Linked DNA regions of Homo sapiens: region 2 is linked to region 1. Evidence: fine-mapped expression QTL. A gene starts in region 1. The other region holds a variant in brackets. All regions are shown on one strand. Distances are from middle to middle. Region 1 holds the start of LY6D (lymphocyte antigen 6 family member D). Region 2 has its middle 17 kb from the start of GML.

Region 1 (14,844 bases):
GTCAGGAGTTCCAGACCAGCCTGGCCAACATGGTGAAACTCCCTCTCTACTAAAAAATACAAAAATTAGCTGGGCATGGCGGTGGGTGCCTGTAATCCCAGCTACTTGGGAGGCTGAGGCAGGAGAATTGCTTGAACCTGGGAGGCAGAGGTTGCAGTAAGCTGAGATGGTGCCACTGCACTCCAGCCTGAGCGACAGAGTGAGTGAGACTCTGCCTCAAAAACAAACAAAAACATCTCAATTAAAAACAGAGGTTGTCAGATTGGATAAAAATAGAAACAGCCAAGTATATGCTGTCAGTGGGAAACTCACCAGACATGTAAAAACACAAATAAGATAAAAGTAAAAAGATGGAGAGAGATATACTATGCTAACACCAATTAAAAGAACACAGACATGACTACGTCAATATCAAAGTAGGTTTAAAGCAAAGACTATAATCAGAAATAAAGAGGAGCATTACTGGCCAGGTGTAGTGGCTCTCATCTGCAATCCCAGCACTTTGGGAGGCTGAGGTGGGAGGATTGCTTGAGGCCAGGAGTTTGAGACCAGCCAGGGCAAAACAGCAAAACACTATCTGTACTAGAAAGAAAGAAAAAAAATTTAAAAAGAGGGACATTACCAAATGATAAATTGATCAGTTCATGAAGAGGACTCAGCAGTTCTAAATATGTATGCACCTAACAATTAAGCTTCAAAATACACAAAGCAAAACAAACAACATCTGATAGAACTGAAAGGAGAAAAAGAAAATCCACAATAACAGAGATTTCAACACTCCTCTTTCGAGAACTGATAAAAAATAGACAAAAAGTCTGTAAGGATGAAGACGTGGATCACATTACCAGTCAACATGACCAACTTGATGTTTGTAGGACACTCCACCTCACAGAAGGGGAACACACCTTTATTTACCAATAATGTCCTCCAAGGCAGACTGTATTCTGGGCCATAGAACAAATCTCAGTAAATTTATACGGATTAAAATCATGCAGATTATTTGCTTGGACTACAATGGAGCTAAATTAGAAATCAATAACAGAAATATATCTAAAAGATCATCAAATATTTAGAAACTGAGTAATAACATATTTCTAAACAACTTATAGGTCAAAGGAGAAACCAAAAAGGAAATCAGAAAATATTTCCAACTGAATGAAAATGCAAACACAATTCATCAAAGTCAAAGGATGCAGCTGAAGTGGGCCCTGGAGGGAAATTTTGCACTAATGCTTCTTTTAGAAAAAAAAGAGCTAAAACTTCTTTTGGAAGAGAAAGAAGTTCTCCAAAAAAAACCACCTAAACTTTCACCCTCGGAAACCAGAACAAAAAGAGCAAATCAAACCCAAGGTAAGCAAAATGAAGAAAATAGCAAAAATAAAAGCAAAAAAAAAAAAAAAAAAAAGTGAGGTAGAAAAAGAAGATAGAGAAAAATCAATGAGAGCAATGTTTGAGAATGCCCCTCCAGGAGGAGGACCTCAACAACCCTCCCCAGTCCGGCTTGTCCATGGCAGGACCAGAGAAAGGACCTCTTGCAAACCAAAGCTAGCTGCCTCTGAGTTGGGGGCTGGCCAGTGGAGTGGGCGGCTGGGGCTGCCCCTCCAGCCCTCCGTGGGATCTGGCTGTCGAGACTGGGCGTTAAGGGAGGCTCTTGGGCCCCCCTGATCTGACTGAATAATGCTCCTTTCTTTCTCCCACCTGGCCTTTCAGCCAAGATGCTGTCAGGCGTCATCAGCCCCACACAGGGCCTGCAACCTTGTAGGTGGGGACAGCGCAGCTGGCCAGAGGGGGCCGGGTGGGAGCTCAGGCCCGACTGGACGGTGAGGAGAGCAGAAGTTCCGAGCAGGTGGAGGGAGGATCCCTTTTCAGAGGACCTGGTCAGTTGCTTTTGCACAGTCTCCCTGACAGCTGCCCTCTGTCTGGACATTGTGCTTTGACTGCTTTTAGCATTTCCATTTTTAAGGCATAGAGAAAATTGCATCCGGTGATGGGCCAGGAGAGTCAGCCATGCACCCCATGACAGGGACAGTGCCCCACCCCTGGGTGCTGGCCAAACCTCAGTGGCTGTGCCTTGGGGCCCCACCACTCAATCCTATGCCTAAGCATCTCCCTGCAAGTTCTGAGCTTGGGCTCTGGCAGAGGGAGCTCCTCCTTCAGGGGCACTCAGGACATGGGGGCAGGGCTGTCGGCCCCCTCTGGCCAGCTGCGCTGTCCACACCTACAAGGTTGCAGGCCCTGTGTGGGACTGAAGATGCCTGACAGAGTCTTGGCTGGGGCTGGGGCTGGGGTCAGGTTGTGTCCAGGACAGTTGAGGAGCTGTCCAGCAGGGTCACAGAGAAGCAGCCTGGAGGCTGGGAGACTGAGCTAGGGACCCCTGGAGGCACAGGGCAGAGGGCAGTGATGGGCTATGAGCTGTGACTGTCCTTGGGCTTGGTCTGGAGTCCTGCCAGCTCCCAGGCCCCATTGCAGCCACATGGGCAGCCTAGCCCTCTCTGGATCCTGCAGGTTCGCTCCCACTCCTGGGCCTTTGCCCAGGGCCCGCACGCAGCCTCATCCATGCTGCCTTCGTTGTCCCTGTACCTGCTGCTGCTTTGCAGTCTTCCCTGACCCACCAGCAGAACTCCCTCTTCCTTCATTCCTGGAGTTTGGTGGCCACAGCCCCCGTTTCCTGCCTTTCAGGGGTGGGAGTGGTAGGGGAGGTGGCATTCCCGCCTGCCTCCAGGCTGCACTGGACACAGAGCACTCCCGTTCCCTGGGCCCTGGATGAGGATTCCTGCAGCCAGCCTGCCGTGAAGTGGCAGGAGTCACTTTCCCTTGCCCAGCCTTAGTTTCCCCATACGGAAGTGGGGATGGGTGGGCCTGCGGCCTAGGCACTCCTACCCCTCTGCTCTCTGCCCGACTCCCATGCCCAGGTGCCTTCGCACACCCTGCCCTGGGCGCTTGGCAGGCCTCAGGCCACCTGTCCAGAGTGGAGTGGAAAAGGGCACAGATGGGGCCATGAGCGGCACTGGCCTGGGCGAAGGCGGATTTTCCCTGTGCAGGAGCCCCGGCACCCGGCTCTCCGGTGGCCACCAGAGGGCGCTCATACTCAGACCTCCAGGAGCACTCGCAGGCCCCTCCCACATGCCAGCACTCAGGGGAGAAGGGGCGCCCTCACCCCTTCACCCTGGGTCATGTCCCTGAGACTGGGGTTCAAGAGCCTCCAGAGAGGCCGGCTTGGAACACCCCAGGCCCAACCCCAGCCTCGGAGCCATGTGGACACTGACTACCCACAGCCACCACCCAGGGCAAGTCCAGCTGCCTGGGCCCATCCCCATCCATGGGAACCCAGCAGCCCCTTGGCCAGACCTCACCAGGGTGAAGCTGGACTGGAGGGGGCGGGGAGCATGACGCAGGGAATATGGGCCAGGTGAGGTCGCCCAGAGGCAGGGAGGGTTCCGCACCCACTGCGTGGGTTCTGGTATTTCGGGGATGAGGCTGTGACGTGGAGTGAGATGAGGCCCCCGGCAGATGCCCCAGCAAGGGGCCCTTCCCCTTCTGGAGAGGGCCAGAGGCTCCTGCAGGCTGACCCCACGCCCCCGGCATGGGAAGTCTCAGGCCTCACCTGGGTCAGAGCAGAGCTCTGCCTTCCCCCAGGGCAGCTCCCTCACAGGTCTGGCCTGGAAAACTTATGGTGACCGAGCCCCCTCCGGCCCCGGCCAGCAGACAGTGGTGTAGCATGGGTGGCAGCTGGTGAGGGGTCAGTGGTGCTCCCTGGCCCTGGGTCCAGGCACTCAGCTCTTTGTCCCACGCACCATGAGACCAGCAGCATTACCACCCCCAGTTCCAGCCAAGGGCAGGAGCACTAGGTGGGGTCTGAGGCCCCAGGAGCGCACGGAAATGCCTGCAGCCCTGCAGTGGCTGGGAGGGGGGCTGAGGGCCAGGGCCACCATTTAGTCACAGGCAGCATGTGGGGTGCTGGCTGCACCAGGTGGGTGCCCAGTGGAGGAAAATGGAGGCTCCCGGAGGTGGAGTGCTTTGCCTAAGGTCTCTCAGTCAGGGCAAGGAGTGACCCACCTTGGCCGCCCTGGGGAGATGGGCCTTGGGTGTGGAGAAGGGTGATCCCAAGGTGGAGACAGTGAAGCTCACCCAGACCCAGTCCTGGGTCGCGGTGCCTTGGCTGGGCAGGCAGCCCTCCAGGAGGGGGTTGCACAGTGGCCCTGGGTCCCAGGGGAGGCAGGATGGACAGGTGGTAAGAGCAGGCCTTCCCAAATCACGCTTCACCTCCAGTAACCATCCAGCACCCCACTCGCCCCCAGCCCCTCAGCTGGAACTGGGGGTGGTGATGGTGCTGGTCTCATGGTGTGTGGGACAAAGAGCTGAATGCCTGGACCCAGGGCCAGGGAGCACCACTGACCCCTCACCAGCTGCCACCCACGCTACGCCACCGTCTGCTGGCCGCGGCCGGAGGGGGCTCTGCCACCACGGAATTTCCAGGCCAGGCCTGCGAGGGAGCTGGCCTGGGGGAAGGCAGAGCTCTGCTCTGACCCTGGTGAGGCCTGAGACTTCCCATGCCGGGGACATGTGGTCAGCCTGCAGGAGCCTCTGGCCCTCTCCAGAAGTGGAAGGGCCCCTTGCTGGGGCATCTGCCGGGGGCCTCATCTCACTGCACGTCCCAACCTCATCCCCGAAATACCAGAACCCACGCAGTGGGTGCGGAACCCTCCCTGCCTCTGGGCGACCTCATCTGGCCCATATTCCCTGCGTCATACTCCCCGCCCAGTCTAGCTTCACCCTGGTGAGGTCTGGCCAAGGGGCTGCTGGGTTCCCATAGATAGGGTCCATGGGACTTTCCTGGATGGTGGCTGAACTTTCCCTGGGCAGCTGGACTTGCCTTGGCGATGGCTGTAGGTAGTCAGTGCCTACTTGGCTCCAAAGCTGGGGTTGGGCCTGGGGTGTCCCAAGCCGGCCTCTCTGGAGGCTCCTGAACCCCGGTCTCAGAGACATGACCCGGGGTGAAAGGCTGAGGGGTTCCTTCTCCCCTAGGTGCTATGTGTGGGAGGGGCCTGCGAGCCCTCTTACCCTGTGCTCCTACTCAGGCCTCACCCCAGGAGTGCCCTCCACCTCTGGGGCGGTGGGAGGCATCTGAGCAGCCTGCCCCTTCCAGGGTGGGGACGGACGGTGCCACCTCAGGCATCACCCCACGACTGGCCCCAGGGGACATGTGCTGGAGGCTCAGGGTACCTATGTGGCCTGATATCCGCCCCTCAGCTCCTCCGTCCCAGAATAGCACAGCCACAGCCACACTGGTTTAAATCATTTATCTCCATGTAGAGATTTGAGTACAAAAATAAACGGCAACAAAACAGAAGGAGTGTGAAATCCGGGGATCCACAGGGCTTCTGTCCTCCACCTTCCATGCAGCTGGGGGCTGCATCCTCTGTGGGGTGGCTTCATCCTCTGTGGGGTCTGTGGGGCCTGCTCCAAGTCATCAGCATTCCATGCCCACCTGGACCTGGTCCCAGACTTTCGGGGAAGCCCTCAGCCTGGGGCTCCTGGCACCCCCGTTGCGGCTGGGGAAGAGAGGTGTGGAATCCCCAGAGAAAGGGAAGGAAAGGCATGAGGGGCCTTCCCTGGGGGGAAGGTCACAGGCTGGGGGCTAAGATGACGGCCAGGAGGCTCAGGGCCAGCCCCAGGCTGAGGGCACTGTGGGCGAGGGCGGTGCGGGTGGGTGCAGCGTTGTGCAGCTTCTCATTGCACAGGTCCTCCTGGCAGCACTGGGTGGAGCTGGTGCCGCTGCTGACCTGGCCTTGCAGGGTGTAGCTGGGTGTGCACGACTCCGCACAGTCCTTCTTCACCAGATTCCCCCTCAGAGGCTCCACTGGGCACAGGTGAGTGTGGTCAGGCCAGGCAGCCACCTCTGCCCCCCACCTCCCCACAACCTTCCAGCCAACACCCACAACAGCCAGGGATGTCCCCCAGCCCCAGGGACACCTGGACAGATGCTACCCACCTGTGTTCGTGGTCTTGCAGAAGCGAGAGCTGGCCGGGCAGACCACAGAATGCTTGCAGTTGCTGGAGCTGGTGCACACGTGGCAGCGCAGGGTAAGGGCTGGCGGGGAGGGAGTCCGGCTCAGCGGGCCCAACAGAGGCCTCCTGGTGACTCAGCAGGGCCTGCTCCCCCACCTGCAGAGACCCCTCCTGGACAGAGGCCCTGCTGCCCTTGCCCTAGGCCCCCAAACCCGGGCTCTGGGTCCTGGCAGGGCATGTGCCCTGAGTGCAGCCTCAGGGGACATGTATTCCAGCCTGGGCCGGCTTGGAAGAGGTGTCCTGCCCTGCCCCTGTCTAGGGTGTGTTGCAAGCCTTTCCTCCAAGGTCTCAGGGAGCTCTGCGACTGCCAAGAGGACACTGGCTCTTGTCCCCACCCCAGGGGATGTCCCTGGAGGAGATGGCTATGTTTCTGAGGGCCTGACGGAGCTAAGGCCCCGGGGGCAGCCAGCTTGGCTGCTCTGAGCCTATGACAGGAAGGGCTTGGTGGCCTTTGGGCTGTCCTGGGCTGTGCTGGGGGAGACCTGGGGACCGGGAGGGGCTGGTGGCAGGGACTAGATGGCCGCTCTCCCAGTGAGAAGCATCTCAAGACAACCCCCTGCTCCACTCTCTCAGGGTCCGTGACTCCAGGAGTCAGTTCTAAGATCCTCAGATTCTGAAACATTGTAAATCTGACACTCGTTAAGATTCGGGCTCCATGTTGTTTTAAATTTGAAGAGTCTAGCACCCACAGTGTCGGGGTTCTCTGTGCCTAGATGTCGTCAGCTCCAGGCTCCTAGTATTTGGTGACCACACAGGCCACAGCCGCCCACCCGCCCGTCCCCTTGGCCCAGCCCCTCACCTGGCCCTGTAGCCACAGCCAGGGCTGCAAGGAGCAGCAATGCTGTCCTCATCTCTGATGTCGTCTGGGAGCAGTGCGGGCCCCTGCATTGCCAAGGCCTTATAGGCACGGGCTGGGCGGGGGTGGGCAGTCCGCCAGCCAGCGGCATTCTGCAGGGCTCTGTGCAAGCGTCAGCCCAGGACGGGCACCTGCCCCACCCTGCCTGGCCCACGCCCACCAGCCTGGCTGTCGCTGGGCGCTGCCCCTGCTGCCCCCCGCCAGGCAGAGGTCTGCCCTCCGCAACGGGGCCCAGTGGCCTCCTGGCCCTGCTGTTCCTGCTGCTGTGCCTCCATCTCTCCCACTTTCACTTCTCTGTCTCTGTGGGTCTTGTTCTCTCGCTGCCGTCCGTTCCTGGGTCACTTTGTCTCTGACCTGCCACCCGCTACCCCCCGCCCCCCACCCCCCACCATCCATCACCATCCTGTGTCTTTGTCCCTGCATTCCCCCCATAGTTCCCTCAATAGAGTTGCAGCCTGTGCCCGGTGCCCTGTGGGTGCCCGTGGGTGTCCAGGGCAGGGGAGGTAGGAAGGGCAGGTGCTGGTCCTACTCTCCTGGCTCTGGGCTCAGGGTTGCTGCCGGGGATGCAGAAGGTCCTTGAGCTGCAAGGGCTCGGGGTGGCTGTGGGCTGATGGGGTGTGTGAGGCAGAGGCAGAGGCAGAGGCCACTCCGAGGCAGGGAGGGCAGCTGGGGCAGCAGTGAGGTGAGCACTGGACAGAGTGAGGACTGTGAGGACCCGGCCCTCGAAGTTGCCTGGGGAGCCCTGTGGGCAGAAGGCCCGGGCTGTGGAGGCAGCAACTCCACCCTGCGTTGTGCAGGGAGAGACTGAGCCCTCCTGGTCTCCACCAGCCCTGCCTCCCGCCCTCCAGGGCCCCAGAAGCCCTCCCCGTGGGATTCCTTCCCCCACTCTCCAGGCCCCTCCTGCTACGTTGGGGGCAGCGCCATCCCGGCCACTTTGTAACTATTGCTCTAGGTGTCCCGGCTCCAGTCTCCCCAAAATCGTGAACTCTTTGGGGCTGGGCCCCAGCACCCAGGGCCTCAAAGCAGGTTCTTGGTCTGCTGCCCGTTGAGTGGAGGCCAGTCCCCGCCTTCACCCTCTTTATACTCACAGGAGGGACTTTCTTTCCCTGGAGACGGGGTCTCTGAGCACCCACCGCCTCGCGCAGGAGCCCACCTCTTGGGGCCCCCATCCACCTGCTCAGCCCAGCACGCTCTGCCGCTCGCCTGTGCTGGGCAGCACCCACCTGAGTGGTGTGGAGGGGCCCACAGACTTGCTTTGCCCCTGCCCTGGCTAGGCTGAAGGTGAGTGGGAGCCGGGGCACAGATGGAGGTCAGCCCTGGGCCCAGCCTCCTGCCGCCGCTGCCACGTGGCTGATGAACAGACAACAACAGGCCCAGGGCAGGGCAGGGCCGGTTCCGAGGAGGGTGGTCCTGGGCTGGGCTGAGGCTTTTGGGAGCACCGTGGGTACTGGGGCCAGTCAGGCCTGGGCTTGAGACAGACCCTCTGGCCCTTCCTCCCGGCATCTCTCCCTTGCTGAGCCCCACGTCTCAGATGCCGGGGATCCCAGCAAATGTCTCCTGAGAATGCTCCTGGCCGGGCTCTCCCTGACACAGTGCCGGGGCCTGGAGGATCCACCTACAGGAGGGGTTGCCTGGTGGTGCCTTTAGAAACCAGGGTGCAGGCGGGAGCCCCCTGGGGCAGCCCCACATTTGCATCTGGTGCCTGGCCCTGGCTGGAGCTTGGTGGGGACGTGTGTAGTCTCACTTGCCAAGGCAGGTGACCCAAAGGTCCATGCCCCCACCCAGAGAGAGGAGGTTTCCTCCAGCTCCAAGGCCCTGTGTCCATGGGTCACAGTGAGAGGCATGGGCAGCTTGGGGGAAGGTGCTTCCAGGGGCCTTGGGAGGCAGAGCTCAGGGCTTGGTGGCGGGGTGATGACTCGGTGGGCATGGCAGGTGGGGAGGGTGACTCACTGTGGCCAGGGGCATGAGAGCTGCTGGAAAAACAGGTTTGGAATTCCTGCTGGGTCTGGTGGAGCTGGAGGGTCCGGGATGTCAGGTGGCCTGAGAGTGGGTTCTGAGTGTGGGGCCATGGGGGAGTGTGCTCCCCACACCTGGGGCTGGAGGAGGGCCCTGCACACCTGGCTCACCCCCGTGGGACACCTCAGGCATCACTGTGGCTGCGTCCCTGCCAGGCATGGGAGCCGGAGCGGGGTTCCAGTTTTGTGGGATGAGGGCCTCTGACCTGGCAGGGCTGCCCACGAGGATGAGCTGCCCATCCCAGGTGGTCCTAGCAAAAGCATGAACAGCAGCCCTACACAGTTCACTTTCAGGAGAAAGCGGGTGCTTCTGATGCCAGGAGCCCTTGGACAGCTGAGCTTCTGGGGACAGTGCAGTCAGGGAGGGTTTCTTGTAGGCAGTGACCTGACTAGAGCCTCAGAGCCAGGGATTGGAATGTGGAGAGGAGACACTGTGGCCCCTCATGTCAGTCCCTGCCCAGTGCTTGTTCACTGGTGAGGAAGTGAGGGCCAGAGAGCTCCAGGCACGTTCTGGGGCAGAACCTGGTGGGGTCTCAAGCACTTCTCACTATCACCGCCAGCCTTTCCCCCCTCCTCCCTCCTCTGTTCTCTAGGGCCTGGGCCCTCCCCCACTCCACCCCTCCCACTCAGCCCCTGGAGCTGGGGCCCTGGGCCTGGTTGGTACCATCAGGGTATTGGCAGCAGAAATGACACCTGGGAGAGGCGACGAAGGGGCCTGGGGCAGGGAAAACCACCGCCCCACCCCGTTAGCCTTGCCCCCTGCTCCCTGAACCAGGAAACCCGGCACGGGGACAAGCCCAGGCTTCTGTCTGGAGCCGAAGTTCCTTGCTCATGCCCCTTCCCCCACCTTCTGCCCCCTCTACCTTATGCTGGGCCCCTAGGAACACACAAGGGTGTGGTGGCTCAGAGAGGGAAGCGCCTGGCTTAGGGCGGCACAGCACCGTACTCCAGGCTTGCACCAGCCCAGCCCTGGGCCCTGTCCTGGCTGAATGGGTGCCTGGTGGACAAGGCGGGGCCCCGGGCTGGAGAAGCTGGCTGAGTGGGTGCCCGGTGGACAAGGCGGGGCCCTGGGCTGGAGGAGCTGGCTGAGTGGGTGCCTGGTGGACAAGTCAGGGCCCTGGCCTGGAGGAGCTGACTGAGTGGGTGCCCGGTGGACAAGGCGGGGCCGCGGGCTGGAGGAGCTGCCTGGGCTGGAGGAGCTGCCTGGGCTGGAGGAGCTGGGAAGCCCCAGGGCACAAGGAAGGGCTTCTTCACCCTCAGGCTGTTACCTGGGCAAGCCAGAATCCCAGCCACACCCCAGGGGTTCCAAAATGCATCCGTCTGCCTTGAGGCACTCCATTCATTCATTCATTCACTCACTCATTCATTCATTCATTCTTCAACATTTTATAAGGACCAACCATATGCAAGGCACTTTGGATATAATGGAAACCAGGAGAGAAGAGAGACAGGGCCCAGGTCCCAGGGCCTGCAGACCAGTAGGGAGTGGGAACAGACAATTGCTGCCTCTGTGGGACCCACAGCAGGGGTGTGATGATGTGGAGGGTGAGGATCTGGGGCTGAGAAGCCAAGGGAGGACCAACCTTGTTGGAGCTGTCTAAGCAGGGAAGGGTGTGTGGCCATTACCTGGTAAGCAGGTGGGTGTCGGGCAAGGGCATTGGGGCCCAGGTGCCAGGCCGCTTTTCTGTCTCTTTCCCCCGCAGGGGCAGGTGGCTGCCCCAAGCTGAGCGGCTGAGTGTGTGGTGTCTTTCTAGAGGCTGCCCTGATCCTCTCAGCCCCCTCACCTGCACAGATGGGGCCTCAGATGGACAGCAAGGGCCCGGCCTTGCCCGGCATCACCCAGCAAGCGGGAGCCACAGCTGGGCTGGGCCTCTGGGCCTGGGCTCTTCCCTCACACCTGGCCTCCCCACTCCTCTTTCTAGTGCCGGAGTCACCTTTACACATAGCACCACAATCTCAGGCAAAGTCTCTTTCACCTGCTTCCCAGGGCCAAGCCTGGCCCTGCCCTAGTCTTAGGTCACCCCCTGGGACCCTGGCTACCAGCCACCCCTCCCAGGGTACACCTAGTGTCCATGGGCCGGGCCGGGCCGGGCCAGGGGCCGGGGATGGAGGCCAGCTCTGCCCCTCCACACAGGCCCCTCATCCTTGCCAGGTCTCTCTTTCCTGCACTGCCAGGGGGGCAATCTAGGGAGCAGTTTCGTGGATGGAGAAACCCTTCTACCTTGGGGCACAGCTTGTTCCCAGCAAAGGCTGGACTGGGGCTCTAGGTTCCTAAGGCCCAAGAGAAACAAACCTGTTCCCAGGCCTGGCTGGTGGTGCCCACAGGCGGGGCTGGCACCTTCCCTGGGAGAGGCACCATTTCAGCACCTAGGACCGGCATGGTCCCTGCGAAGCGCTGGCATTCAGGGGGCTAGTCAAGGGTGCCCAGTGCCAAAGTCTGGGCGATGAGGGAGAATCCCTCAGGGTGTGAACTGTGTCCAGCCTGTGGTAGGGGGAGAGAGGTTGCAGCAGAGTGCAGCCCTGGAGCCACGGAACCATAGCGCAAACAACTGTGGGGACCTCAGAGTCCCAAGACTGCAGGCTGTTAGCATGGGCTTGCAGAACACAGAACCCTAGAATTGCAAGACCTAAGGAACCTGGATGAGAATCAGGTGCCCTGGACGGGGGTTATTTTCACACATTAGGACATGCTCCCACCAGCATTCTAGGGAATGTCAGAGGGTTTGTGTTAATGCTGAACTCCTGGGTTCTCCCCTCTGCTAGGCCACAGCTCAGTCTACTTCCTGTTGTGGCCTGGAACTTGTGGCTGCCAACCCTTAGCTCCATGAGGTAGGTTCAAGGCTGGTGAGCACAGGGCCCACCTCACTTTCCTCCCCCACTCCCCTGCCTTCATTTGCTCCCAATACATACCTGCTCATCCATCCTCTATCCTCCATCCATCCATGCATCCATCCATCTACCATCTGCCCACTCATTCTCCACTCATCCACCCACCCATCTATCCATCCACTCATCTGTCTATTCTCCATCCATCTATTCATCCCTCATCCAGCAATCAATCTACCATCTGTCTACCCATCCATTCATTCACTTATCCATCCATCGACTCATCCATCCATTCTCCATCCACTCATCATCCATCCTCCATCCATCCAGTCATCCATCAATCAATCTACCATTTGTCCACCCATCCATCCATCCATCCACTCATCTGCCCACCTTCCATCCATCCAGCCTTCATCCATCCATCCTCCATCCATCCATCCTCCATCTTCCATCCATCCAGCCTCCATCCATCCATCTTCTCATCCATTCATCTTCCATTCACTGATCATCCATCCTCCATCCATCCACCCACTCACCCATCTGTCCTCCATCCATTCATCATCCATCCATCCATCTATCTACTCATCCATCCATTCTCCATCCACTCATCATCCATCCTCCATCCATCCAGTCATCCATCAATCAATCTACCATTTGACATATACACCATGGAATACTATGCAGCCATAAAAAATGATGAGTTCCTGTCCTTTGCAGGGACATGGATGAAGCTGGAAACATCATTCTCAGCAAACTATCGCAAGGACAAAAAACCAAACACCACATATTCTCACTCATAGGTGGGAATGGAACAATGAGAACACATGGACACAGGAAGGGGAACATCACACACCGGGGACTATTGTGGGGTGGGGAGAGGGGGGAGGGATAGCATTAGGAGATATACCTAATGCTAAATGACAAGTTAATGGGTGCAGCACACCAACATGGCACATGTATACGTATGTAACAAACCTGCACGTTGTGCACATGTACCCTAAAACTTAAAGTATAATAATAATAAAAAAATCTACCATTTGTCCACCCATCCATCCATCCACTCATCTACCCATCCGTCATCCATCCATCCATCCACTCATCCGTTCACCTTCCATCCATCCATCCTCCTTCCATCTACACTTCATCCATCCGTTCTCCATCTTCCATCCATCCATCTACTCATCTATCCATCTTCCATTCACCCATCATCCATCCTCCATCCATCCACCCACTCACCCATCTGTCCTCCATCCATTCATCATTCATCCATCCATCTACTCATCCATCCATCATCCATCCAGCCATCATTCATCCTCCACTGATCCATTCACTCATCCATTCATTCTCCATCCATCCATCCTGTATCCATCCTCCATTCATCCATTCACCCACTCATCCATCCATGCTCCATCCATCCATCCTCCATTCAGCGATCCATTCATTCAACCTCCATCCATCCTGCCTCCTCTGGGCAAGTGAGTCAGACATTTTGACCACCTTGGGAGACATGGGATGAATTTAGTGCTGATGGCGCAGTGTGACCTTTCCCTTAGTCGTAAGGAAAATCCCCAAGATATTGAGTGCATCCTTCCAGAGGGTCTCCTGATAGGTGGGCTGTTTCACTCCTGCTCTCCTGTCCTCAGGACAGGCATTCTTCTTCTTACTCTGCCTGTGGTCCTCCCTTGCCCTGTAGGAGTTCCTGTCCCACCAAAGGACTCCCCACCATGAGTCAGTGCAGACCAGCTCCCTCACGGGAAGTCCTAGCAAGACCTCGGACCAGCCTTCCGCGCTTCTCAGGCAAGGGTTACTTGGTGGTCTGCAGTGGCTTTGTCCCTCCAGGGCCTGTCCCCAACTCAGTGTTCCCACCAGTGGGCACTGCCCTTATACCACTTATGTGTCCTCTAGGAGTTAGTTAGAATGATGTCTCTCTGTCTCTCTCCCCGCTCTTCCTTTTCTATTCACCCACACCTGCCCCTGACAAAACAGTAATTCTCAAAGGCCAAGGAGTCCATCCTGGCAAGGGTTCCGAGACCCTTGGGTCTGCAGCAGGTCATAGCAGCTTTGGGGCTGGCAACACCCAGACCATAGACACATGCTTTTTAAAGGTTACAGGATAACTTGGGGGGACATCATGGATCCTAGCCCTTAGGAATGAAAGAACTATCTTCCATGCACTGCATGCCCTGTCTTCAGTCTGTTGCTGGCACCAGCACCTCCACAGGGCCATGTGAGTTGTCACCACATGACTTGGGTGGAGGAGGCTTGTCTTTGCTCCTCCTGGGATCAGGTGACTGCTGAGCTTTGAGGCTGGAGCGTCCCAGCATGGCTGCTCCCTGCTCAGCTTGGATGTTGGGTCCTGGGCAGGGCCTGGGGTGGGCTGTCCCTGCAGGAGGTGTGCGTGTTGCTGCAGTCCTCACTGGGTACCGGGCCAGGCCAGGCTTCCAGGGGAGGGAAGAGAGGCCCATGCTGGGCCCTGCCAGGGAACTCACCAGGACCCCAGGGGCTTAAGGGATCAAGAGGGTGTTACATAAGAAGGGAATCGGGTGGGTCCTTGGGGAGCAGGAGATGCCGAATGGAAGGAGCATGGAGGCCCAGGAGCCCCTGAGCCCATGCAGCTGTGCCCGGGACAGAGGAGCAACTCTGACGGGCAGCCCAGGTCACAAGGAGCCAGGTCGGCACTGAAGGGACCTGAGAAAGCCCCACCCACCTTCATTTCAGAGCTGGCACTGCTGACAGCAGGGTCTAACCACAATGCTGGCTCTGGGTTCCACTGTCCCGCACATCTCAGCCTGAGCCCTGCTGAGCCTGGTGGCCTCTCCTCCCTGGACCCAGACCTCCCTCGGGCATTTCAGGGGTAACTCATTCCAACCCATTCAGCCCCACCTCTCCCCCAAACTGCTCCTCCTCAAACCCGCAGAGGCCATGCAAGGGCCCCCAGAGGCCTACATCTCCACCCTCCCTCTGCCTCTCCCTTGGCCCCAGTCTGGCCCTGCCTCCTCCTGGCTGGGGGCTGTGCCTGCCTCTGCCTGCACCGCCCCGCCCTGCAGTCCTCACTCCTTACCCTGCACTTGGGTTGGA
Region 2 (14,844 bases), 31 kb after region 1:
TCTCCACCCCCCCCTCTTTTCCTCCCTCTTTCTTTCCCTCCACCCCTCCCTTTTTCCCTCCTTCCATCCTTCCCTTTCTCTCAGCCTTGCCTCTCTCTAGCCAGTGCAGGGGGCAGGGGCTGGAGGGGCATTAGACCCAGGCCCCAGAATTGCAGTGGGCACATGCCAGCCACACTGAGTCTCTAGAGATTTTCAGGACCTTGTTCTCTTCATGCCCAGTTCGGTAGCTGGAAACCTGCATTCACCTCATAGCAGCCTCTAGCCAATGGGCGGAGGGCATCCCTGTCCTGTCCTCTAGCCAATGGCGGAGGGCATCCCTGTCCTGTCCTCTAGCCAACAGGCGGAGGGCATCCCTGTCCTGTCCTCTAACCAATGGGCGGAGGGCATCCCTGTCCTGGCCTCACAGTGAGGAAGCGCTTCATAGATCACAGCTCAAGGCCCACTCGGGCCACTCCTCCTCCACCTGATGCCTGCAGAGCCCCACAACACCTCCTTGAGGCTGCCCAGGGCCCCTTACGCCCTCTGGGGCCCCCCAGTCACTGGCCCAGAGTGGGTGAGGCCCAAGTGGTGCCCTAGTGGCATGAGCTTGTCCGAGTAGAGGAGGATCCTGGGAGTGTAGCCAGTGCCACCTCCCTGCCCAATTCACACAGGGAAAACTGAGTCCGGGTGCAGGTGGAGGAGTCAGGATTTCAACTAAGGCCCCTAAGCCGGCAGCAAGCGCAGGAAAGGAGCTGTGCTGGGGACTCAGATGCTGGCGTGGGGCTCCCGTGCCCATGTGCCCCATGAGGGCCCCTGTGCCAGGGGAATGTGGGGTCACTCGGGAGTTCACGGCCTGGGCTCGAACCAGAGAGAGGACGCAAGGAATCCCAGTTCCTTCCGCAGGGAGAGATGGGGCCACCTTGAAAGGTATCTACACCCACCAGCCCCAGTTCAGGTCTCAGCCCCACTCATGCCCATGCTGTGGGGTGTTGGGCCAGCCCCTCAATCTCTCCAAGCCTGCAATTGGTTGTCTGAAGAAAAAGAGTGACAGCAATGCTGACCAGCACAGAAGGCTGCTCTGGGGTGGGCTTAGCGGTGGATGGGGAGGCCCAAAACCCAGCCAGCAACCAGCAGTGCCCACCCAGCACCCGTATCTTGACTCCTGACATCCTTCTTCACTCACAGGAATGAGCACTACTTGGAGAAAGGGCTGATTCTAGGGATGGAATGCGGGAACACAAGATGAGCCTGAAGTAGTTTTTTTTTGTTTTTTTTTTGAGACGGAGTCATGCTCTGTCACCCAGGCTGGAGTGCAGTGGCGTGATCTCAGCTCACTACAAGCTCTGCCTCCCGGGTTCACGCCATTCTCCTGCCTCAGCCTCCCGAGTAGCTGGGACTACAGGCGCCTGCCACCACGCCCAGATAATTTTTTGTATTTTTAGTAGAGATGGGGTTTCACCGTGTTAGCCAGGATGGTCTCGATCTCCTGACCTCGTGATCCACCTGCCTCGGCCTCCCAAATTGCTGGGATTACAGGCGCGAGCCACTGCGCCCAGCCAAAGTACCTTTAAAAACAAAACAAAACCAAAACCAAACTTCTTTATTGAGATATAATTCATTTCATGAAACTCACCCATTTAAAGTGAACAGTTCAGTGGTTTCAGTACTGCATAGTTGCAGGGTTGTGCAACCATCACCACAATCTAATTTTGGGATGTTTTTACTCCGAAAAGAAACCTGTGCCCATCAGCCGTCAGTGCCAGCTTCCCTGCTCCCAGCCCCTGGCAACCCCTGCTTCACTTTGCCTCCGTGTGAATTTGTCTGTTCTGCACTTGTCATGCAAAGGGGATCATATACTATGTGGCCTCTGTGTCTGGCTTCTGTCCCTGAGCACCAAGTTCTCAAGGCTCACTGCCTTGTTGCCTATGTCAGTGCTTGATTCCACGGAATGTACTCCATGTGGATAGAGCACATTTGTCTATCGGTTCATCAGTTGAAGGACATTTGGGTTGTGGAAGACCATGTGGGGCCAGAAAAGAAGAAAATCCTAAAAAAAAGACCCAAAATGATGCGGACTGTGAAAGGAATAGATCAGGCAGCTGAAAACCCTTCCAATGGCCAGAGCTGGAACAATTTGAGCAGCAAAATAAATAACAGTATTGGATTATACTCCTGTGCATAAAATAAATGTTTACAAGTCCATAATGATATCAATAAATGATTGAAGAAAGAAGGATATTGGAAAGAAAAGACCAATCTTCTGCATAAGAATTCCAAATAATTTACATAGATACTTTGCTTGAAAAGGTGGAGCTTAAATTGCCACTCCTCAGATGTGGCTGCACTTAGTGACTTCCTTCCAACCATGACAGCATGGAAATAGGGTGGGGGAATGTATGAGTGTGTTTTCACGCTGCTTAGAAGGCATACCAGAGACTGGGCAATTTACAAAAGAAAGAAGTTTAATGGACTTACAGTTCCACGTGGCTGGGAAGGGCTCATAATCATGGCAGAAGGCAAGGAGGAGCAAGTCATGTCTTACAGGGATGGCAGCAGGCAAAGAGAAAGACCTTGCGCAGGGAAACTCCCATTTTTAAAACCACCAGATTTCATGAGACTTATTCACTATCATGAGAGCAGCATGGGAAAGACCTGCCCCCATGATTCAATCACCTCCCTCCAGGCACCTCCCACAACATGTGGGAATTCAAGATGTGATTTGGGTGGGGACACAGTGAAACCGTATCGGGGAAAAAACAGGCTTCTCCTGGTAGGAGAGAAGCCTGGCAGATACAACACCATGGAAGTGGTCAAGGTCAGCATCAACAGTGGTGAATCCCAGTGTCAGTGCCTACTGTTGATGTGGTGACAGAAACAGTGATTCACTTCTGCTTCAGTCTTCTCAAAACGACCATCCCAGTCTAACCACCAGGAAAACACCAGGCAAATTGAGAGACACGCCACAAAATATTCAACCAGTACCTCTGAAAACTGTCGAGGTCACGAAAAACAAGGCAAGTCTGAGAAACTGTCACCGCCCAGAGGAGCCTCTGTAAACATGAGTATGTACCACACAGGCTCTTGGAGGGTAATAGATGAGAAAAAGACATTAGGGGAGAATGAAGCCAATCTGAATCAAGTGTGGATTCAGCTCATAATAATGGGTCAATATTGGTTCATTAATTGTGACAAATGGACCACAGGAATATAAGATGTTGAAATAGGGATTTCGGCTGGGTGAGGTGGCTCACGCCCATTATCCCAGCACTTTGGGTGGCTGAGGTGGGAAGATTACTTGAGCCCAGGAGTTTGAGACAAGCCTGGGCAACATAGTGAGATCCCATCTCTACAAAAAAATGGCAAATTAGCCAGGCATGGGGGTGCATGCCTGTAGTCCCAACCACTTGGCAAGCTGAGGCGGGAGGATCACTTGAGCCCAGGAGGTTGAGGCTGCAGTGAGCTGTGATTGCACCACTGCACTCCAGCCTGGGCAACAGAGTGAGACCTTGTCGAAGAAGAAGAAAAAGAAGGAGAAGGAGAAGATAGCAATAAGGATATCTGGGTGTGGGGAATATAGGAACTGTCTGTACTATCTTTGGCAACTTTTCTGTAAATCTAAAACAATTATAAAAGTAATAAGCTTCTATAAAAAATGTGGCAATGCCTATAGAAGTGAGGGGCTCGATGGTGGGGTTTGTGTGGCTGGCAGAGCTCTTCAGGGCAATCGCCACACTTCCTAGGCCACATGCTTAGAGCAGCTGTTCTCCTGGTCCCCAGAAGACCACATCTTGGGTCTTGTTTGCCATGCAGGCAGTAACATTCTGTCTTTGGTAACCTGAAGAAGACCTGCGAATAGCTTGTCTCAGGAGATAAAATGCCAAGATAATGAAGCTAAGGCCACAGGTCACGCCCTTCAATCATCATTGCACAGTAGACGTTCTCACAGGCATGGCTTGCACCTAGACCCTGGTCACACCCTGAGCCCTGACCCTAGACACACACTTAGGTCTGACCCTGGCTACACACTGAGCCCTGATCGTGCTTCCACTCTGTTTTGACTCTGGACATACATTGAGCCCTGATCCTGGATATATATTGAGCCCCGATCCTGGTCACACACTGAGCCCTGATCTGACACTGAGCCTGGATTCTGATCACATACTGAGACCCATTCCCACACTTTGGGTCATGCTGTCACACTATATATGACTCTGGACACACATTGATCTCTGACTGTGGTCACAGGCTGAGTCCTGAATGTGACCCCACACTGTGACCTGACTCTGGACATAAATTAATGCTGATCTTGCTGTAAAAATTAAGTAATTCGAAATCAAAGCTGTTGGAACTTTAAATTATTTTGAGACTTAAAGGAGTGTGACTATAAGACCTGAATCATGTAAACAGGCAGCTGTAACCTTTGTTCTTCTCATTATAGATTAGCCTCTTCTTTACCTGCATCATTGTGCAGTATGTTGTAAAAGACAACAGGGTGCCAAAGAAGACCACTTTCCCTCTTCACTGTTGATCTCTTTATACACTGACTTCCCTTTTACTTCTCCCAGACAAAGACTTCACGACTATCACGTTGTCTAAGATGGAATGTTAAATATACTTTTAAACTGGAAAAGGAAAACAAGTTGTAATCAAATTGCTGTATCTCATAAACTGGCCTTGTACGAAAAAAAAAACATAAGCCTGTTAAATGTCTTTGTTTTATCTGTCTAGAAAAGCAAGACCTTAACTTTCCAGCTTCGGAGCACTGACCTCATTCTTCTAGGGTCTGTGTTACCTGGATGGTCATTCTTAGCTTTGCACTTGAATAAATTTAGACTGGATTCTGATCCTTTCTATTATTTCGGGTTGCCATGGCTCACATTCTCAGCCCTGGCCCTGGTCATAGTGATTGGAAGATGTATTAAGATCTAGGAACAGAGTTTGGGGGAAGCAAAGGAATGCCAGTTTGCTCAGAGACACAGAGCACTTCACAAAGGGATCAGAGAGCAGCTGGGGGCTCAGGCTGATGGGGCTCTTAAAGGGGCATGAGCCGGGAGGCACCGGGAAAAAGCTGGGCATTGCAAGGTGCCCCAGCACCTGCTCTTGGCCATCCTGCTTCTTTCCCTCTTTCCTTCCCACCCAGAACCTTGCCCTGCAACCCCTTTCTCCCTGCTGCCTCTGGCCTCCTGGAGCAGGGAGTACACCAGCTTTTGGAAACCCATTTTGAAGGATCCCAGCCTCTGGGCTCCAGGCTCACTGAGTGTGGCACACAGCTGCACCATGAATGCTTGCCCAGGCATGTCCAGGCTGGTCCCTCCCTGAGCTGTGCTGGCTCCTTTGGGAGCAGAGACTGGGGCGGGGAGGTGGAGGACACAGATGATTCACTCTGGGTTCCCAGGCAGGCTGGGTGCACATGTTTCCAGCTGATCTGGTCAGCCAGGAGCCAGGATGCAAGGATGCCTGTGTTCCTGAGCGTGGGGTGTGGCTGGTATTTTCCAGGAGCAAGGAGGTGGCAAACTGGATAAACAAGGGTGTCTAGGCTTCTGTCTCAGCTCCCAGCAGGCTGCAGGGCTCACCCGGGACAGCTCAGTTTGCCTTCCCTGCAGACTGGGGCTGAGCCATGCCTTGCTCCTGCAGGGCCTACAGCTGGGGGCACTGGAGGTGGCCCGGGAAGGGTCATTAGGAGCTCACCAGCCAGGCAACACCCGCAAGGGCTTCCATCTCCGAACACACTGTCTTGAAGTTCTCTGCCCGCGAAGTGGGGTGGAAATTCAGCACCCCCCCGAGCAGAGCCTGGCCGTGAGATAGATGACTTGCCCTGTTTAAAGCGGTGCCCAGGGACAGCCTCCACGTCACCATCACTCAGGCTCCCTCTTGCAGCCCCTGCTGGCAAAGTGGAAATGTGGCTTGCAGAGTTGCATCTGAAGCCAAGCAGAGGGTGGGAACGGAGCCAAACTCATAACTGAACCACCAGCACCCCCGCTGGGCAGCCCCGGCAGTGCACCCTCGGGGTCCTTCAGCGGAGAGGAGCTGGCCCCACCTGCCAGCCCCATGGTGCTCCCAGCCAGTGATGAGGCATGGCGGGGGCTGCTCCTCTGTGGCCTCCTATTAGGGCAGCTTTGGCTGGGATGTCTCTGAGGCCAGCCGACATCTCAAAATGGCCCCGCCATCCAGGAGGCCCCCTCCTTCCGCAACTGTCAGAGCTATGCGGAGTCCCACAGCTCTCGCCTCCCACTCCTGTTCCCTCTCATCCTTCACAGGCTTTTCTGGCAAAATGTTCTTGCACATAGAGTCCTGCCTTGGCATCTGGTGTGAACAACAGAATCCAGTACACCCAAAGCCCCTCTACAAGACAGCCCCCATCTGCTCTGCAGACGCCCCCGGCCTCAGCCCTGCACCTCTTCCTGTCTCACACACATATACGATACACACACACTCACACACACACAAAATACACTCACACACACAAAATCACTCACATACACAAGACACACAGACGTGTACTCACACACAAGCACAGGGACACACGTACACACATACCCACACATGTACACACGCACACATTCACACAAAATACACACAGACACACATTCACACACATAGACGTTACTTACACAAGCACATGCACACATGTACACACACTCCCACACATGCACACTCACACACAGACATGCACTCACAAGCATATGCATACATGTGCACACATATGCACACTTACTGATGTGCACTCACACACAATACACAGACACACACACGCACTCACACACAACACACACACAGACTGCACTCACATGCACATTCACACACATTCACAATACAGACATACACATGCACACAGGTACATTCCCGCACACGCACACTCACACAGTGCATTCATACAGTACACTCACACTCGGACAAGCACTCACACAAGCATATTCATACGTACATCTACTCACACACGTACACACACAAGCACACTCACATCAGTGACACACACTGGCTCACATGTGCACTCACACATAACACATCCTCTTTCACACATGCACTGACATTCACTCTCAAACATTTGCACACACACACATTTACATTTACTCACACACACATTTACATTTACTCACATACAGTCACATTCACACTCACATTTGCATGTGAACACACCTGTAAGCACACATACACTTGTGCACACACCTGCACACTGTTTGGACTGCACTCACACACCAACCCCAGAGTGCACCAGGCTTGGTCCAGCCCCCCGGCGCTTCCCCCGCGACTGACCGAGGCTGGTGTAGGAGGGAGGGAGGAAGCTGTCCTGCCTCCGGAGGGGAGATGAGGGCCATTCCAGAGCTTAGCTGCTCCGCTGCCTCTCATCAAGAGCAGGGCCAGGGAGGCCCAGCGGCTTCGGGGAGTCAGATTCGGTGGACCAGGCAGGAGGAGGGTAGGACCTGTGGCTCCCCTGCCACGACCACACTGTGTGCTGAGGTGCCTGGCTCTGGGCTCTGGCAGACCAGGTTTTGCAGTGTGGGCTGCATGGCCATCTCCTTCCTCTCCTTAACATTCTTTTTCCATGAAGTGGGAATCATGATCCCTCCAGCCCTAAGTTGTCCCCAGAATTAAAGGGGCATGTGTGTGTCTGGCAGAGTCCTGGGACCAAGGAAAACCCCAGAGAAACAGGGGGACGGTGCTGTGAAAAGGAAGTGTTGGCTGTGAGGGCCTGATCCAAGTCACCTAGGAAGATGGGGGCAAGAGGGACCCGGGCCCAGGGAGCCGCGGAGCCGGGGAGGATGGGGCGGAGGAGGTCTGTGGCTGGCCGGCTTGCACCAGGCCTCCTCTGCTGCCTGCCCACTGCTCCCCAATGCTGGGCAGGACCTCGAGTTTCCTCACCTGCAGGATGGGACCACCCCACCGGCCTCTGCTCGCCTCTCCTTCTCCTTCCCAAACTGCGCAGCTCTCAGCACCCTCTTC[G/A]TACCACTCCCAGCACCCAGCAAACACATCTAAAACAGTGTAGCACAGCTCACAGGCCCTGGCACGCTGTGGGGGCTGTGACGGGGCCCAGCAGACCACGGGGACGACGAACATCATCAGAGAGTAACCTGCAACCTGGCCATGCTGGGTCCTCCTGGGGACCTGACTAGCAGGAGGCACCCTTGAGGTCTCGGTGGTTCTGGGGCCCACAGGCTTCAGATCTGGCCCATCTCCCATCTTCCACTCTTCTCCACGGCTCACTTTGCCTGAAAAATAGGCTAATGCTGCCTGCTCTACTGGCCAGCTGGGGAGGCTCTGTTGGTGAAATGAGAGCCCATAGGCTGGAAAGTGTTTGAAACATTTGAAGGCCCAAGTCTGGAGGGCAGGTCCCAAGGTCCACTCAGATCCTGAGTTCATTGGCTCAGCCTTGGGGCGGGGCTCTCGCTCCCGGAAGGGGATCTGCCTGGTGAAGCCCAGGGCAGTGGATTCAAGTCTAAGTCCGCCCCTGTGGATGTGGGGCCTGAGCGAATCACTCAGCCCTCTCAGAGGCCCTCATGAGGCTCCCAATTTCTGGCCTGCCAGGGCATGACCTCCCTGGAGACCCTCACTCCAGACGCCTAGAAGTCAGTGACCCTGCAGCAAGAGGGAGAGGAGCCCACAGCCAGGGCTGCTCTGATGGACGCCACAGGGCCGTGCCGACCCATGGCCCAGACTCCTTTTAGCAAAGGCCTCCTCTAGAAGTGTTTGCCAAGTGCTGGGGGTGGTAAGAAGGGGGTGCCAAGAGCTGCGCAGTTTGGGAGCGAGAAGGGGTGGGAGAACTGAGAGGGGCTGGGTCCCAAGGGGCAGTTGTACTGAGGAGGAGGCTGCCGACAGCGCTGGGCCCCCAAGCCTCTGCTGGGCTTCTGGGAAGCAAACGGCTAAGTGTCCTGTTCCCTGTAGCCCAGCTAAGAAAGACCCTTGAGGGAAGCAGGCAGCCACAGAGGCTGCACAGTCTTGGGAACCGTGGCACAGCCCAGGGTGGGCCAGGACAGTCCCCGTGCCCCTCACAGGCCTGGGGAGGGTAAGGCAGAGCCCATCAGGCTGTCCCCAGAGACCCCAGCTGCCTCCTGGGCCAGGAGACAGGAGTCGTACAGGTTGGCTAGGGGAAGCCCTGGGGGAGATGGGCAGGAGGAGGACGTGGCTAAGAGCTGGGGTGGGTGTTGCGGCCTCTCCAGGAGTATTCTGGAGAGAATTTCCTAAACGGAACAGGCTCTGTGAGGCCACCCACACTTGCTGCCTGCTGGCGACCCCTGGAGTGGCATCCCCCCTCACACTTCTGTGGGACCCTCAGACACAGCCGTCGCCATTGCTGAATGACCGTCGCTGGCCACACGGGCAGCTGGACCATGGCCACAACTCACCGAAGGGCCAGAGGCACGACTCACCGAAGGGGTAGAGGTGGGATGCTGCCCACTGGTGGGAGGAGAGTACAGAGATGGACTCTACCCAGTTGCGACAAATTCAGGAGTTTCCCGAAGGGACTGCGACCTCTGTAGGCAAGGCCAAAACATCTAGGGGAGGCCGGGCGCACACCCCCTGGACCAAGGGTGTGACCCAGGGCTGGCGAGTGGGTACCTGGGTGGGTCTGCCAGGTGGAGAGCCGGCCCTGTCTGCCAAGGGCCCTGAGGGCAGGATGTGGTCTGCCGGACAGCACGTCTGCTCACAGAGGGACCACCTCAGGAGGGCTTTCTTCTGAGCAGTTGTGCTTCCTGTCCTGAGCACCTTGGGGAAACTGAGGCAGGAGGTAGTGTGGAGCGGTGAGTATCTTGGCAGGGGTGCCTCTTCACCAGCTCACGCCGCAAAGCCTGCCTACCCCAGCCTCCAGCCCTCATGGGCCTTGGAACCCCTCCGGGCATTTCCACAGCCCACCCCCAGGAAAGCCTGGCTCACAGGTAACCAGAGCACACTCCTATCACAGTGAGTCCCACAGCACCCATGCCTGGATGCTGGCCAAGCTCAGGCGCCTGCCACTGCCACTGGCTGTGCCCTGCCTGCAGGTCTCCCTCATTCTACCCTCTCCTCAGATTCTCTCCTCTGCCTCCTCCAGGAAGCCTCCCGTGACTCCACCCAGAGCCCTCTTGTCCCTGAATTCCTGGGGTTCTTTTGGCTTTGGGGATAAGTGGGTGTGGAGCTGTCGTGTCCCTAGGTGCAAGCTGGACCGGTGCCCAGCCTCCCCGATGGCCTTCTTAGGGCCCACCCTGCAAACCTCTGCTTTATCTTCCAGATACAACCTCACCCATGAAGGGAAGGCCACGCCTGCATCCCTTAGGGTCAGAAGCCAAGACGCCCTGCAGGCTCTGCACCTGACTCTGGAGCCTAAGATCCCTAGAAGCAGGGCAGTGCTGCCTCCCTACAGCTTAGTCCTGCCCATGGTGGGTCCTTGGTTCAGCCATTCATTCATTCCCTCCCCTCCCCCCTGCCCCATGTCATAGACAGGCTGGCTGGGCCCTATGCCGGGGCTGGGCCAAATCCTGTATGTGCAGAAGGACCCCGTGAGAGCCTGCCCACAGCAAGGTCGGTCAGAAGGGATGGCTGAGACACAAGGGGCAGGGTTTACAGCCCAGGTGGGGGCAGCAGCGTAGGGTGCAGGAGCCCAGAGGGAGGGTGCAGGGCCATCCAGCAAGGCCAGCCTGCAGAAGGCCGTTCCTGCCCAGTCCAGGTGCAGAGCCTTACTAGGACCTGGGAGAGCAAAGGGACAGGCAAGGTCATACCTGCGGGGGTGTGGAGCTCCTCTGCTGGGCCTAGATGTTGAGTTCATACCCCTTTGCCAGGTTGGGAGAGGGCATCGGCTGGGGACAAAGCGGGTCAAGCAGGTATGAGATTACCCTTGGATCTCTTCCTCCTGCAGCTTGGAGGATGCCAGCAGGGGCCGGCGTTGAGGAGGCCCTCGGGTGGCATCACCAGCATGGCTCTGAGGGTCTCTATTTCCAGAGCTCTGCATCTGTGAGCTCAGGCTCCCCACCCAGTCAGCGAGGGAGAAGGCAGGCCGCTCCTCAGTGGACACATGCCAGTGGCCTCAGGTCCCATTGCTCCACCTCTCGCAGTGGAAGGCCACCCCCAATGTGCTGAGTCCACTCAGCAGAAGGGAAGCGCTTTCCCTGAGCTTGCAGGACTCAGCCCAGAGCCCGGTGCTTAGAGGGCTCTGTGAGCCTTTGGGCCCAGGGGGCCTGTAGACGCCTCTGGAGGCTGGAATGTCTGTGGAAAGCACCACCTTGCTGATTCTGCCGCAGAGGCTGGGCTGGCATGTGGGCTGGGGCTTGTCCTAACACTGGGACCCTGGCAGGTCTCTGGGGTTGCAGGCAGGAAGCAGGTAAGGCTTCCACACTACAGCCTGTATGAGGTTGTGTAAGGTAAAGCATTCATGTATTCATTTGCTCGGCAAGTATTCATTTACTTCCTACATGCTGGACACTGTGCTGGGTATTTGCCACAGTGGCCTTGACTGGCATCCACAGGGCCAGCAGCTTAAGGGCACACAGCCTGGGGGCCATGGGGGTGGTAAGAATGTGGGCCTGAGATGGTGGGAAATGGCTCCTGCACGGAAAACATGCTTCCCGTAGTCCCAGGCAGCTTAGAAGACCTACTGATGAGCATCGAAACAGAATCCTGCTCCTAAGCCTGGCTGTGCTCTCCCAGTGTGAGGTCTTTGGTTGCCGTCCATGTCATCGTCCTCCTCCTTACCACAGGGGCCCTGGGCAGCCAACCTTGGCAATACTCATGCAGATCTAATGAAACCATGCCCACAGACACCATCTGTGCCCCTGCCTGGCTACCTCATGCCTGTGCCTGGTTGGAGGCTGCACATCTTTGGCTGGGGTTTGCTCTTGGCCTGGATTCCATTTTCTCCCAGCAAGGTAGGTGTGTAGAGGGGGTGTTTTTCTAGCACTGATGCAGTGGCTGGCATGTTTCTTCATACATGGCATGTGGCATTAGCAATTTAAATCTCCACCTCTGGGTGTGATTTTTAGCATTAAAATGAGGAAGGGGTAACTCCAGGTTGAAATTTAGGTCTAACTACACATGTGGGGCTTCAGGGAAGTCCCTAGCCCCCTGCTTCAGGGGGCTGATTGGCTGAAAGTTAGGTGAGCTAGAGCTTGAGTAAGGGGCTTTGTTTTTCTCCCCTAGGCCAGATCACCACAGGAAGCCAGCCAGCCTGCTTCATTCCCCCTGAGAGATTTCATCTTCATTTTAAGGGGTTTTGGGCAAAGGTCTCTTCTTCTGGAGCTACTTCCTGCTGAGGCGAGTGTCATTCCTATATCCTTTACCTTTACCTGAGAGGAATGGAACTCCTTTCAGCTTAAGGGGACAATCTGCTAGGGCTGAGGGCTTCTGGAACACACTGGAAGCACTGCACGGTCAGTAACATTGTTGCAATCTAGAAGACAAAAGTTTTCCCAGGAAGTTAAACAAGCATGGTCCAAAAATCAAAAGAAGGATAGCCGCTGATGGTCCTAAGGAAGGAAGAAACCAACTTGTAGAGAGAGAGGTGATGAGGCAGCATTCGGAACTGACTCCTCTGCTGGGCTCCCTTTACCAGAGAGTGTGGCCACATTGTCTGATTGTAGATTGCTTGGATGTTCACCTCTGCTTGCCCTGTAGTATTTATCTAAGCATGGCAGGAGGTGTTGGTGACTATGCATACACCTCCTTGTTCTGCCGTTAGGTAATCAAGGGCCAATGGTTACCCAACACCACGTTATCGAGAGAACTGAGGGAGGGCTTCACACCTTCTAGAGCCTGCCCAGTCTGATCCACTACATGACCAATCTGCCATGTCAGGCCTCCCCAAGGGGCTGGTAGACCAATAGTCAGGCCTATTCCCACTGGCACCATGCCAAGGCCTTACCTTGCTCAGACAGTGGCCTGATGTTGGGAGGTGCAGTTGTGGTTACTCCGTTTATCCCCATCGATCCCAAGGCACATTCACCTGTGAATCACACATTGGCTCTGCAGGAATAGGCCTGAGCCAACAGAGGAAAAGTATAAGGAAAGCAGGCAGTGGACCACAGGAGGTTATTAGGGTGGCCTCGAGGGAAAACAATTCCAAGAGGAGCCCAAATTCGAATGTCCCTGGTGTCATTGAGAATGGAGAGGTTCAGGTTATGAATTGTGCAGCTGGGGGTATCAAGCCAGGGTCCTGATGATGGTCTGCATATCCCCTGGTGTCATTGAGAATGGAGAGTTCAGGTTATGAAATGTGCAGTTGGGGGTATCAAGCCAGGGTCCTGAAGATAGTCTGCATATCCCCTGGTATATATCATTTATATAAGGATGTTACTTAACTATTGCTGTCTTCCAGAGGCAGCTTCTTGAACAAATACTTGAGGTCCTCTATAGGTTTATGGGAGTAGACTGTTTTCTCCAAGCAGGCCTGTCGTCCATCAGGAGAAGCAAAAGGTTTTATTCTAGAGACAAGTCCTTCCAACTGTACAGCTGATGGAGTGGCCAAGGAAACCTGGTATGGACCCTTTCATTTCTCAGTGAACTGAGCCTCTGGGCTTCCTTTTCGCCATGTCTTGAGTAGGACCTGTGCACCTGGGCTAGCAGGGAAATGATCTGAAACTCCATGACCCGGCTGAGGTCACATCTTATTATCATATTGGAAGATGGCCTGCTGAACTTGTCCCAAGTTAATGATGTATTTTACAGCCTGATTTAACTCTTCGTCTAGAAGAAAGTGGCTAGGAAGAGGCTAGCAATAAGAGGAGTGGGTTGGGATCCTGTTGGCATCCTATGTCACGCTTAGACAACGATGCTCGCCTAGAAACTCAGGTTAGAGGCTCGGCCCACAAGGTTAGATGCCCTGGGGTATATCTGGAACAATGGAATCTCTTTGCAAGATGTTTGTCAGTGTGTGATCTGAACTAATCCACCTTGTGCCCTCTGCTGGGGATGGGAAAGCTCTACTTCTCATCATTTCCCAGCTCATTGCTTTGCTGTACAGCAGCCTTGGGGCAGCCCCGAATGGCTGGTCCAGAGGTTTCCACCTTCCAGTGGTGGATTCTAATGTTCTTTATGTGTTTCTCTCTGTTCTTCTCTGCCTGCTTTGGATCGGCTGTTACTAAGCTGCTGCCGAGTGGCAACTCTGCTTATCTCACGGTGTTGAGGTGAGACTCACTGCTTTTGGTATTACTGATTCAAGGCTACTTAGAGATTGTCTTTTCTTGTACAGTTCAGCCAGTTCTGGCTAAAATGTATACATTAAAAACTCATTTAAAACTGAAGAAAAAAGTGATGAAAAGGTTTTTTTTTTTTTCTTAAAACCAAACTTCCTTAAAGACTACTTTACCAAAACTTTGGTCCACAGCTTTCCTTGGATTGCTTGTATGTCTGGGTCAATTAAGAAAAGTTTATGCTCTGGGAAACATGTTTCTAGAATTGCGGGTCTTATCTATAAAGTGCTAACATCTGGCAAACAGTGTAGGATCTCTTGCTTCCTCGGTTTTCAGACTCACAGATGAATGAGTGCCCTTAGCTGTCCCTTCCCATCCCTTCCCATCCCTTCCCGCTCCGGTTTCCTGTATGCAATGTGCTCAGCCTTCCGAGCCCTGGGAGAAGCAGGGATTCTCATGCTTCTTTATGTTCCCCTAGGGACTAGGGGTTAGCAGTCCTCACCCCAATGTGTGAGGTCCTTTGGGCTCTATCTGCTGGGGAGCCTGGAGCCAGGGATCCTCCAGGTCAGCCACTACCCGGTTGCATGGGGCTTTTCGGCCTTTAGGGGCCCAGGGTTGCAGTGACACCCCAATGGAGAGCCTGTTTGAGTCTCAGAGGGATATTTGCCAGCACATACTGCTAGGTCCCTCTTGTCCCCTTTGTCAGCTGTGTATTTGCTGTCTGTGCCTCATTAGTGACATCTGTCATCCTGAGCTTGCATGCTCTGAAGTT

What was found. PIP is the estimated chance that this variant, and not a neighbour inherited with it, causes the effect.
Region 2: its variant is fine-mapped to the expression of LY6D in tibial nerve (GTEx, PIP 0.99).

The regions. Positions count from the first base shown.
Region 1 is chr8:142,779,597-142,794,440 of GRCh38, forward strand. It overlaps LY6D (lymphocyte antigen 6 family member D), which reads right to left and starts at 6,943. Exons shown (of 3, transcript NM_003695.3): 1 at 6,869-6,943; 2 at 5,993-6,091; 3 at 5,286-5,860. The coding sequence starts at 6,920. The coding sequence ends at 5,625. RefSeq lists a silencer at 3,054-3,103.
Region 2 is chr8:142,810,571-142,825,414 of GRCh38, forward strand. No RefSeq gene overlaps it. Among named protein-coding and RNA genes, the nearest start is that of GML, 17 kb to the right of the region's middle. RefSeq lists enhancers at 4,335-5,534, 4,742-5,578. The variant G/A (reference allele first, on the strand shown) is at 7,921.